Regions from separate parts of the Homo sapiens genome. Here region 1 is linked to region 2. The links come from fine-mapping of genetic effects on gene expression. Tissue or cell type: tibial nerve. Region 2 holds a variant in brackets; the other region holds the start of a gene. All regions are shown on one strand. Distances are from middle to middle.

What was found. PIP is the estimated chance that this variant, and not a neighbour inherited with it, causes the effect.
Region 1: it holds the start of GNB1L, and the variant in region 2 is fine-mapped to the expression of GNB1L in tibial nerve (GTEx, PIP above 0.99).

Annotation. Positions count from the first base shown.
Region 1 is chr22:19,852,750-19,857,749 of GRCh38, reverse strand. GNB1L (G protein subunit beta 1 like) reads left to right here and starts at 2,876. Exons shown (of 8, transcript NM_053004.3): 1 at 2,876-2,930; 2 at 3,211-3,307. RTL10 (retrotransposon Gag like 10) reads left to right here and starts at 2,876. Exons shown (of 3, transcript NM_024627.6): 1 at 2,876-3,090; 2 at 3,211-3,307. It overlaps LOC124905080 (a long non-coding RNA gene), which reads right to left and starts at 2,778. Exons shown (of 2, transcript XR_007068005.1): 1 at 2,038-2,778. RefSeq lists enhancers at 1,866-2,345, 3,768-4,386.
Region 2 is chr22:19,772,367-19,777,808 of GRCh38, reverse strand. It overlaps a transcript of TBX1 not described here. Among named protein-coding and RNA genes, the nearest start is that of TBX1, 14 kb to the right of the region's middle. RefSeq lists a silencer at 769-1,270. The variant G/AAG (reference allele first, on the strand shown) is at 2,904.

The DNA of each region.
Region 1 (5,000 bases), 80 kb before region 2:
AGCAATTTCACTCTTATGTACTGAAAGCAGGGACTCAAACATATACTTGTACACTAATGTTCATAGCAGCATTATTCACAATAGCCAAAAGGTGAAAACAACCCAAGTGTCAATCAACAAATGAATAAACAAAATCTGGTCAATGTGTACAAAGGAATATTACACAGCCTTAAAAATGAAGGAAGTTCTGACACATGCTACGATGTGGATGAACCTTGAAAACATGTTGAGTGAAATAATCCAGTCACAAAATGATAAATACTGTATGATTCCACTTATATGAGGTACCTAGAGTAATTAAATTCACAGAGACAGAATATAGAATGATGGTTACCAGGGGTTGCGAGTGGGAGGGGAAGAGGAGTTAATGTTCTGGAGTGAAGAAAAAGTTCTAGAAATAAATAGTGATCACTGGATATACAACAGCATGAATGTACTTAATGCTCCTGAACTGTATACCTAAAAATGGCTAAAATGGTAAATGTTACTATATTTTACCACAATAAAAAAACAGTCATATGTCACTTAACTGTGGGGATACACTCTGAGAAATGTGTCACTAGGCGATTTTGTCATGGAGGGATCCTCATAGAGTAACTTACACAAACTAAGATGGTAGAGCCTACTACACACCTAGGCTGTATGGTAAGGCCTGTTGCTCCTGGGCTACAAACTTGCACAGTGACTCTACTGAACAATGTAGGCAATTGTGACACAGTGGTATTAGTGCACCTAATCATAGCAAAGGTACAGTAAAAGTACAGTGCAAAAAATAAAAAATAGAACTGGTTAGGGCACTTGCCATGAACAGAGGTGCAGGACTGGAAGTTGCTGTGGGTGTGAGTGGTGAGTGAATGTGAAGGCCTAAGACATTATTGTACACTACTTTAGACTTTATAAACACTGTACACTTAGGCTGCAACACACTTATATTAAACATTTTCCTTTTTTTTTGAGATGGAGTCTCACTCTATTGCCCAGGCTGGAGTGCAGTAGCACAATCTCAGCTCACTGCAACCTCCGCCTCCTGGGTTCAAGCGATTCTCCTGCCTCAGCCTCCCAAGTAGCTGGGATTACAGGCACATACCACCACGCCCGGCTAATTTTTTGTATTTTTGGTAGAGACAGGGTTTCACCATGTTGACCAGGCTGGTCTCAAACTCCTGACCTCAAATGAGCTGCCCGCCTTGGGCTCCCAAAATGCTGGGATTACAAGCATGAGCCTCCACAGCGCCTGGCCTAAAAATTTTCTTTCTTCAATAATAAAATAACTATAGCTTACTGGATGACCAGTTACATATGTGGTCCCTAGTTGACCAAAACGTTGTTATGCGGTGCATGACAGTTATACACAGGAGAGGGCCTGAAAGAAAAAAAAAATTTGGACCAAAAAAGGCCTTTTCTGGCTCAGTTGGATTCATTTCTTCCACAGGCCCACTGCCCACTCTGCTGATGGGCGCTGAGCTGTAGACTGAGCTGCCTTGAGGCTGAGGTAAGCTGAATTTGTGGGAACCCCCACCTTTCCCTTGAGGGAGGAAGTTTAAATTATCAGGTCAATTAGGAAAGATACAACCGAAAAAAATCCAAATTTCATTCCCACTTCAAGGAGGCGTTTCCTGGCTCGGTGCCACTTTTATTATTTTTGGCCCAGGCTGCTGAAAGCCCCACAGACCCAGGGAAGGTACAATGTGACCTTTGATTCGCGTTTCAGGGATCAAAGTGAGTGAGTTTGGGTGTAAATGCAGATAACATTTCAGAGAGCTTTCATGAAAGGAGTCACTGGACCAGGGCAGAAAGGGAGCTGGTGTGTTACGTGTGTGTTCCCCTTGAGAAGCGTCACTTTCCGGTGAATCCGGCTGCCTGCCCGTGGCCCCAAGGACTCCTGGCTTGCATCCAGGTCCTTGGCCCACAGGCATCAGATCCTGAGCTGGGGCGCCTGCACCCTCTCCCACCTCTTCTCTAGGCACCGTGAAGCCGAGGAGAGGTGGCGTGGGACGGCTTGTGCAAGTGAGAAGAGCACCACCACTTCATCCTCACCTATCTTGTCCCAGGATCTGGGTGCTGACTCGGCAGGCTTGGGCTGGGCACGGCCCTGTGGGGAGGGCTTGGTAGCCTGCCCTCGCTGTCGTCTCCGGGTCCAGCCTCGGCCTGAGTCGGGAAGCACACAATTATATCCACAACAAGGAGGCCCAGAGGCCCTGCCTGCAGCCCCCAGGTATGCAGGTAGAGGGTCCTCTCGGACTGCCTGCCCCCTGCCTCTGGCGCCCAGCCTGCAGCTACGTCGAACCGGGCCCTAACAAGGTTCCCCGCACTGGCAATGAGTGATGAGAGGCACTCCGCGGGCACGCCGTTCCAGGGCGCTCACGAGGCCCAGCAGCCCCGCTATGCCCACATCCACCCCGACACCTGCAGCCCCCCAGGCTTAGCCCGGCCCCGCAGCAGCCCTCTCGACGCCCAGCAGCACCCCAGTGTCTGGCTGACGCCAGGGCAGTAACGGCGGGCTGAAGCAGCATCGGCCCCTCGGTCTACGCCACAGCCGGGTGCAGATTTCCCGGATCTGAGGGACCGCCGGGCACCGTCCGCTGGGGATCATGAGGGGCAGCTTTGGCCCGACCGTCTCGCGCCTGTACACGCGGCCCCACCTGATCCCGTGGCACTTGGCGCGGCGTGGGAATGGGCGCGCTCTCCCATCACCCACCGCGCGGCACTGCCGCGCCAGCAGGGACCGGGAGAGCCTGCGAGGTAGCGGCCACACGGCATACAGCGCAGGCGCGGCCTGGATGGGAGGAGCGCGTGGAGCGTGCCGGGAGCATGCGCCGGGTCGTACACGGCGGCCGCGCGCACGCTGGGGGCGTGGCTGCGCGATGTAATCGGTCTCTGGACGCTGCGCGGCGCTCCTAGGAGCAGGCGTTCCCGACTCCGGCAAGAGGGTCAGTGTGGAGGCGGGAGCCCGGGCGGCCGGCTTGAACTCCGTGCACGCGGGCCTGGAGCTGCGCCCCTGCGTCTTTTCCCGACTTCTGATCCGCAGAGGGGCACTCGGAGCCCCAGCCTGGGTCGCAGTGCCTTCGGTCTGCGGGCCTCAGTTTCTCGGTCCGCGCCGGGGGTTTGTGGGGGCACCTGGAGACATTTGGGCCGTTCTCGCAGTCTCGGGAAGCCGCGCCCGCTCCTTGCCTGGCCTCACGGCGGCCGATCTCGTTCTCCACTTTCTAGGTGGCGCCTGGACTCTCGCCCTCAGAGGGAGGCCCGTCCCACGGTCTGTGGCTACGGATCCCAGGACCCTCTTCGCGGGCGATTCGCGTAGCCTCAGGTGGGTGGGCTTCTTGTTGCCGTGGGCCTTGTGAGCTCGTATTTCCTGCATGGCGGTTGCTGGGGGGCGGGCGGTGCAGTCGTCTGCACTCAGCTTGCTTTAAGGCTTTGGGCAGGTTTTGTTCTTGGGGCTCCTGGGTCTCCCCAGAGCAGAGAACGGCTCCAGCGTTCCAGGTGCTGCCTTTGGCCTTGTGGGGGCAAACACACATGCGCCGTGGTACCTGCCCCTTTAGGATAGTGCTGTCCAGTCTAGAAGGGCCGAAAGTCTTCTATGCCAGGCAGTGTGGGGAGAAAAGTAGGGGGACCAACAGACTGATAGGCGTGGGAGGGCTAAGGTTCTCAAAATGGTGAGAGTGCGGCCCAGGGTTAGGAAGGCTCAGGCCCAAAGCAGGCCTGGCTGGCTGGTGCAGGGAAGCCTTCTCCCAGACTGCAGGGGACACAGGTGCGCAGGTGAGTGGGCAGGGTAGGGGACTGGGAAGAAGGGAAGGCAGAGATCTGGGTAGCACACTGTGGCTCCCGGGCATGGGGTGTGGTCATTGTGGGCAACCTGGATACCTAACCTTGGCTGGTGGTGGGAGCTGGGCCCTGGATCGGGGTCACTGCTTTTTTAGAGCTCAGTGAGGGACTGGACTGGACTCGACTCACGTCCAGGCCTTAGTATAATCCTGCAGTAAGGTGGGAAGCCAGGGTCATGGGCTGGGCTTTCAGGTGAAGACCCCCCCCCCAGAGGGGGGTCAGACCTGAGGGATTCCAGAGTGTTTGGGTGGTGGAGGTAGGGCCAGTGGCCCTGGCAGGTTCTAGTGCTGCAGGCCACCCTGGGAGGTACCTGGAGGAACTCACCCTGAGGGGGGATGGCCAGCAGATAGGAGATGTGGGATGAAGGTGTGTGCAGGCCTTGTGCTCCCAGTGAGCCGGTGGCGTTTGTGTGTGGGGTGAAGCAGAGAGTTTCCTGGAGGTCGTGAGTGGGCCTCCGTTTGCAGAGAGACTGGGGAGGGGGCTAGATAGAGTTAGGCTGCAGAGTGTAAGAGCCCTACAGGAGGGCTCCTTGCACTGGAATAGAACTGGCTACTGGCTCTGGAGCCTCCTAGGTGACTGCTGCGTGGAGAAGGAGGGGCGGGTCCAGCCATCAGACTGGGACTCCCCAGACCCTGGGCACAAGTGACTGGAGTGGCGGGAGCAGACAGCAAGTGGGGTTCCAGGATTTTACAATGGTGGGGGCTGGGATGCTCTGCTGTGGCTGGGATGGGGACTGTGGAAAGGTGGTGTTTGTGGGTGGGGGTGGCATTGCCTGCAGGTGGCACTCAGTTGTGAGAGGTGAATTTGGAAAGCATGTGGGGTCAGGAGGGAGCAGAGAATAGCAGGCTCACTGCTCTGTCGGGGAAGCAGGTAGGACCTGCTGTGTGCCTGGTGCTGGGATGTAAAAGAGCCTAATGACGACGCGGTCTGTGCGTTGTTCAGAGTTTTTGGGGCGGCTAGAGCCTACTCAGCAGACAAATGTAGTTTATAATCGCGTGCTGTATAGTAGTTAAGCCTCTGGTCTCTCCAGCCAGTTTTTGCTGCTTCCACCACTTATGGGTTAGTGTGTGGCTGCAGACAAGTTACTTCACCACTGTGTGCCTCAAAGACAATGCTAGTACCAACCTCCTGTGGGGGAGGTGGCACAAATGGGGCACTCAGTGAAAGGTTACTACTAT
Region 2 (5,442 bases):
CAGGCTGGGGGGCAGAGGGAGACCCTGTCTCAAAAAAAAAAAAAAAAAAATTAAGAGTAACAACACACCCTGAACCTGTGCCCAGCACACTGAAACCCAGTGAAAGGGGCTGAGAGAGGATGGAGAGGGGGAGACGAAAAGGACCGATACCCAGAATGGGTCAAAACAGACGAGAAGGCATGGGAAAGGCCAGCACGCTCTTTATAAGAGTAGAACTCAGCCACCCCATTACTGGGTATATACCCAAAGGATTATAAATCATGCTGCTATAAAGACACATGCACACGTATGTTTATTGCAGCACTATTCACAATAGCAAAGACTTGGAACCAACCCAAATGTCCAACAACGATAGACTGGATTAAGAAAATGTGGCACATATACACCATGGAATACTATGCAGCCATAAAAAATGAAGAGCTCATGTCCTTCATAGGGACATGGATGAAACTGGAAACCATCATTCTCAGCAAACTATCGCAAGGACAAAAAACCAAACACCGCATGTTCTCACTCATAGGTGGGAATTGAACAATGAGAACACACGGACACAGGAAGGGGAACATCACACTCCGGGGACTGTTGTGGGGTAGGGGGAGGGGGAGGGATAGCATTAGGAGACATACCTAATGCTAAATGACGAGTTAATAGGTGCAGCACACCAACATGGCACATGTATACATATGTAACAAACCTGCATGTTGTGCACATGTACCCTAAAACAGTATAATAATAATTAAATTATATTAAATTAAAATTTTTTAAAAAAACCTTAATGTTCAATAACATGCGCCCTCTGTAGCGTATGGGATTGAGCGTTACCCAGGAAGCTCCTCCCACCCCGTGTGCTGGCCCTTCCTGCCTGCACTGGCTGATCTGTGTTCTGTACTGTGGTTTTGCCTTTTCCCAGACAGCTTATAAACAGAGCCACGCGGCACGGCACCTCCCGAGCCTGCTTCCTTCCCTCCGTGAGATAAAGTCAAGACTCATCCAGGTTGCCTGCATCTGTAGGTCGCTGCTTTTCATCCACTCATTGGCAGAGGCACATGCGGGTAGTGTGCTGGCTCTGAGTTGGTGGCTGGCATGGACGTCGGCTACCAGCCTCTGCTTCCATCCCTTGAGGGTAGGCGTGCTCTCTTGAAGTCTTGCCCACCCAGACTGATCACATGCGGTTCTGCTTTTCAGGCCCAGTGGCTGCCCTTGAGACATGACCCCTCCCTCCCTGAGTGGGAGACCCAGCTCCTAAGCAGGGCAAGCAGGCCTGGCCCTGGGGTGGCCCGAGGTCCCCTGCACCCATCTCCGAGGTGATCCTGCCTCTGAAGAGCCCTCCACCCCGTGCAGGCCCCTGGGTGTTAGCTGTCCCTGCTGGAACATGAGCTCTTCTAGAGCAGGCACTGTGTGTCTTGCATTCATGGGATGGACACTTTGGCACTTTTGCCTTACCCTCCCACCCCCAGTGAGGGAGGACTGGGCCTTCCTGGAGCAAGGGGCCACACGTCTTCCTCCTGAGGAGCTAGGATCCTAAGGAAAGCTATAGAGCACCATATTGGGTAGGGACAGAGAAACCACCCCTGAGAGAGAGGGAGACCACGGGCAGACACGGAGCCACGAGCACAGGCCCCAGAGCTGGGGTGGACACGGGCCACAGCACTGCCTGTCCCTGGGGAAGCCGCTGGGACTTCCAGGTGGTTTCAGGGGCACTAGCAGCCATGGGTGGTGAGAACTCCCTCCCACCTGTGCCCACGTGGCTTACACCTTCCACTCGGGAGCCGGTGGGACTTGCCTGGGGCCCGAGCACTTGGAGGGGCCACCTCCAGGGATGGCTCCGGTAACCCTCCGTCTCCCTGCAAGGCTGTCACCAGCCTTCTGATGCCCAGCCCTCTCCAGCACAGCCTGGCAGCCACCCTCGAAGCCCACCTCACAGCAGCCAGACCCCTCAGGCTCCAGGCGAGCACTCCAGGCCATGCGGCCTCACTGGGGAGTCTGGGCCCACTTGGGCAGGGGGAGGAGTGCGGAGAGGGCCCTGGGGCACCGCTTCATGCCAGGTGGGACTTGGGAGCTCCTGGCCTCAGAATATTCGGGGCCCCACCACTAGCTCCTTCAGACAGGGTGCGGCCATGTGGGAAGACCTCGCCACAGCAGCCCCATGGCTCCGGACCTGTGGTTCCGAGCGTGCATTGCAGGAGGTGAAAAGCATACCCCACCTCCACCCACCAGATGCCAGAAGCACCCCCACCCAGTGTCCCAGGCACTGTCAAACACCCCAGGGGGCAAGACTGCTCCTGTTAAAAAACCACCGCTTTAGAGGCAGGTAGGGAATTGGTCAATCCAAGATGGATAGCAGTGGCTTTTGCAAACTGTGGATGATCTAGGATTTTTAAATTGTTAAACATACATTTAAAAACACAAATTTTGGCTGGGCGCAGCGCCTCACTCCTGTAATCCCAGCACTTTGGGAGGCTGAGGTGGGCGGATCACCTGAGGTCAGGAGTTCGAGACCAGCCTGGCCAACATGGTGAAACCCCGTCTCTACTAAAAATAGAAAAAATTAGCTGGGTGTGTTGGCAGGTGCCTGTAATCCCAGCTACTTGGGAGGCTGAGGCAGGAGAATCGCTTGAACCCAGGAGGTAAAGGTTGCAGTGAGCCAAGATCGCGCCACTGTACTCCAGCCTAGGTGACAAGGGAGAAACTCTGTTTCAAAAACATAAAAACCAAAAAACCCACAAATTTGGCCAGGTGTGGTGGCTCACACCTATAATCCCAGCACTTTGGGAGGCCGAGGTGGAAGGAGAGCCTGAACCCGAGTTCGAGGCTAGCCTGGGCAACACAGTGACACCCTGTCTCTACAAAAAATAAAGAATGTGCCATTGTGACCATGTTGAAGTACACAATTCAGTGGCATT[G/AAG]TGTATTCCCGATGCTGTGCGTCCACCTCCAGATGAACGCAAAATGGAACCTCTGTCCCCACTAGACGCCAACTCCCCATTCCTCTCCCCCAGTCCCTAACAATCCCCATTCTCCTGTCTGTTTCTTGAATCTGACTACTTGAGGTGCCTCATGCAAGTGGAATTGTACAGTACAAAATGTGTCCTTTGTGACCGGCTCAATTCACGGAGCATAAGGACCTCAGGGTTCATCCCTGTTGTAGCATGTAACAGAATTCCCTTCCTCTTTAAGGCTGGATAATACTCCACGGTACACACACACCACATTTTGTTGATCCGTTCACTTATCGGTGGACGCTCGGCTCGCCTCCACCTTTTGCTATTTGAGTAATGCTGCTATGAACATGGGTGGAGAAATATCTCTTTGAGACTCTGCTTTCAATTCTCTTGGGTATTTTCCCAGAAGTGGAATTCCTGGAACATACGGTTCTATGTAGAATTTTAATTGATTTTAGAGACAAGATATTGCTCTGTCACTCAGGCTGGCGTGGAGTGGTGTGATCGTAGCTCACTGCAGCCTGGAACTCCTGGGCTCAAGCGATCCTCCTGCCTCAGCCTCCTGAGTAGCTGGGACTACAGGTGCCTAGGCCCGCCCAGGCGGGTCTTGAACTCCTGGCTTCAAGCAGTCCTCCTGCTTCACTCTCCCTAACAACTGTATAATTTTTCAAGGACCCATGACACTGTTCCCCACAGAAGCTGCACTATCTTACAGTCCCACCAGCAGTGTAGACGGCTTCCAGGGGCTCCATGTCCTCACCAACACGTGTTGTTTTCTGTTTTTGTTTTTTAAAATCATCATCATCCTAATGGATATCCAAGTCTTTAATATTCACCTTGAATCACCTTCTGGGTATATATGTGATAGGATCTCTGTCCTGCAGCTCAAATTCTTTCTGGGGAAGAGACCTGTGCATGAGAAACAGCTACTACTGGAATAGCCACTGCTTCCCTCCAGTCGTGGGAAACCTCCCACTGCAGGAGGGAAACTCGGCGGCTGAGGGCCGAGGGGCCAGGTGGGCTTTGCCAGGCAAATCTCCCTCGGCAGCTCAGGAAGGAGACCACGCTGGTGTCCAGGGGTCTGGCCCACCCTGAGACCACTCCCCTCCTGGCAGTGACCGCATCAGGATGCCGAGATGCCTGGGGCTCCATCCTGCAGTCACCTGTTAGAAGGACAGGACTGTGTGAGGCCTGAGGACCCAGGAGAGCAGGTGGAGGTCAGGAGGTGACAGTGGCAGGTGGGGGCCAGCCCTGCAGTAAGCTTCCCAGGCAGTGACTGGGCATGGGCTCTCCTGAAGGGGGTGCCTGCCTGGAGATGGCCCCTTCTGGCTGGCCGCCTGGAGGGAGGGTCCTCCAAGGAAGCCCACACAGCCAAGCTGGAGGGGCCACCTGGAAATGCCTCCGTGGGGTGCTAGGGTGCCCCCAGTTGCAAGTCTCTCTCATAACTAGGCTGTTTCTTTCCAGCACCCACCACACAGGGTGATGGGTGTCTTGGGATGTGCTCCTATGTGTTGGTGTCCACCTCCTGGCGGCCCATTTCCCACCTAGACCTTCCTCTGGGGCCTGAGCAGCAGCTCTTGTCCCCAGAGCTCGGGCCCTGCAGGCTCTCCCAGGAGGTGGCGGAGCAGGCAGGCTTTCAGATCGGTCAGCTGCATCTTAATAAAGCTGCTTGTTTTTCTTAGTCCCTTGAGACTTGACTTATTGTTATCAGAAGGGTGATTATTTGCATGGAAGTGGCTGTTTCCGTATTTTGCCTCAGCTCAACGCCCGTGCTCGTAAGCTCTGAATCCGTGGAGGAACAATGCCACCAGCTAGCGGCCACTCTGCGGTGCCCGGGCTTCCTGTGTAGCCCAGGCCTCGCCTGCAGCCCCAGCAGCACTCGGGTGCAGGAATCCCACCAGCCTGAGGCGACAGGGAAGGGGACCTGTGTCCTGCCAGTGACCCCGATTCTGTCCCTTATCACAAAGGCGGGCTGGAGAAGGGCGCCCGGCAGCTCCTGAGACCCAGCCCCGCGGTGAAGGTCCCTACCCTGCCCTGGGAAGACGTACTGCCTCATGGCTGAAGGTCCAAACCACAGCCATGAGCAACTGGGTAGACTGGGGACTGTTTTGTGGCCCTGCTGCTGTCACCATCTTCGTTCTGTGATGATGTCACAAGAAAAAAAGCTTGTCTTGGGGGAGTAATCCGGAAAACATATTCTGAGATAAAGGATGAATTCAGAAACGGAGGGGAAAAAAAAACTATTTGAGAAGAGGGCTGGGCACGGTGGCTCACGCTTGTAATGCCAGCAATTTGGGAGGCTGAGGCCAAAGGATCACTTGAGGCCAAGAGTTCAAGAGGCAGGAGTTCAAGACCAGCCTGGGCAACATAGCAAGACTCATATGTCTCTACAAAATATTAGCAGGGTGTGGTGGCACACGCCTGTAGTCCCAGCTAATCAGGAGGCTGAGTCTGGAGGATGGCTTGAGCCCCGGAGTTCGAGGCTACAGTGAGCCATGATCAC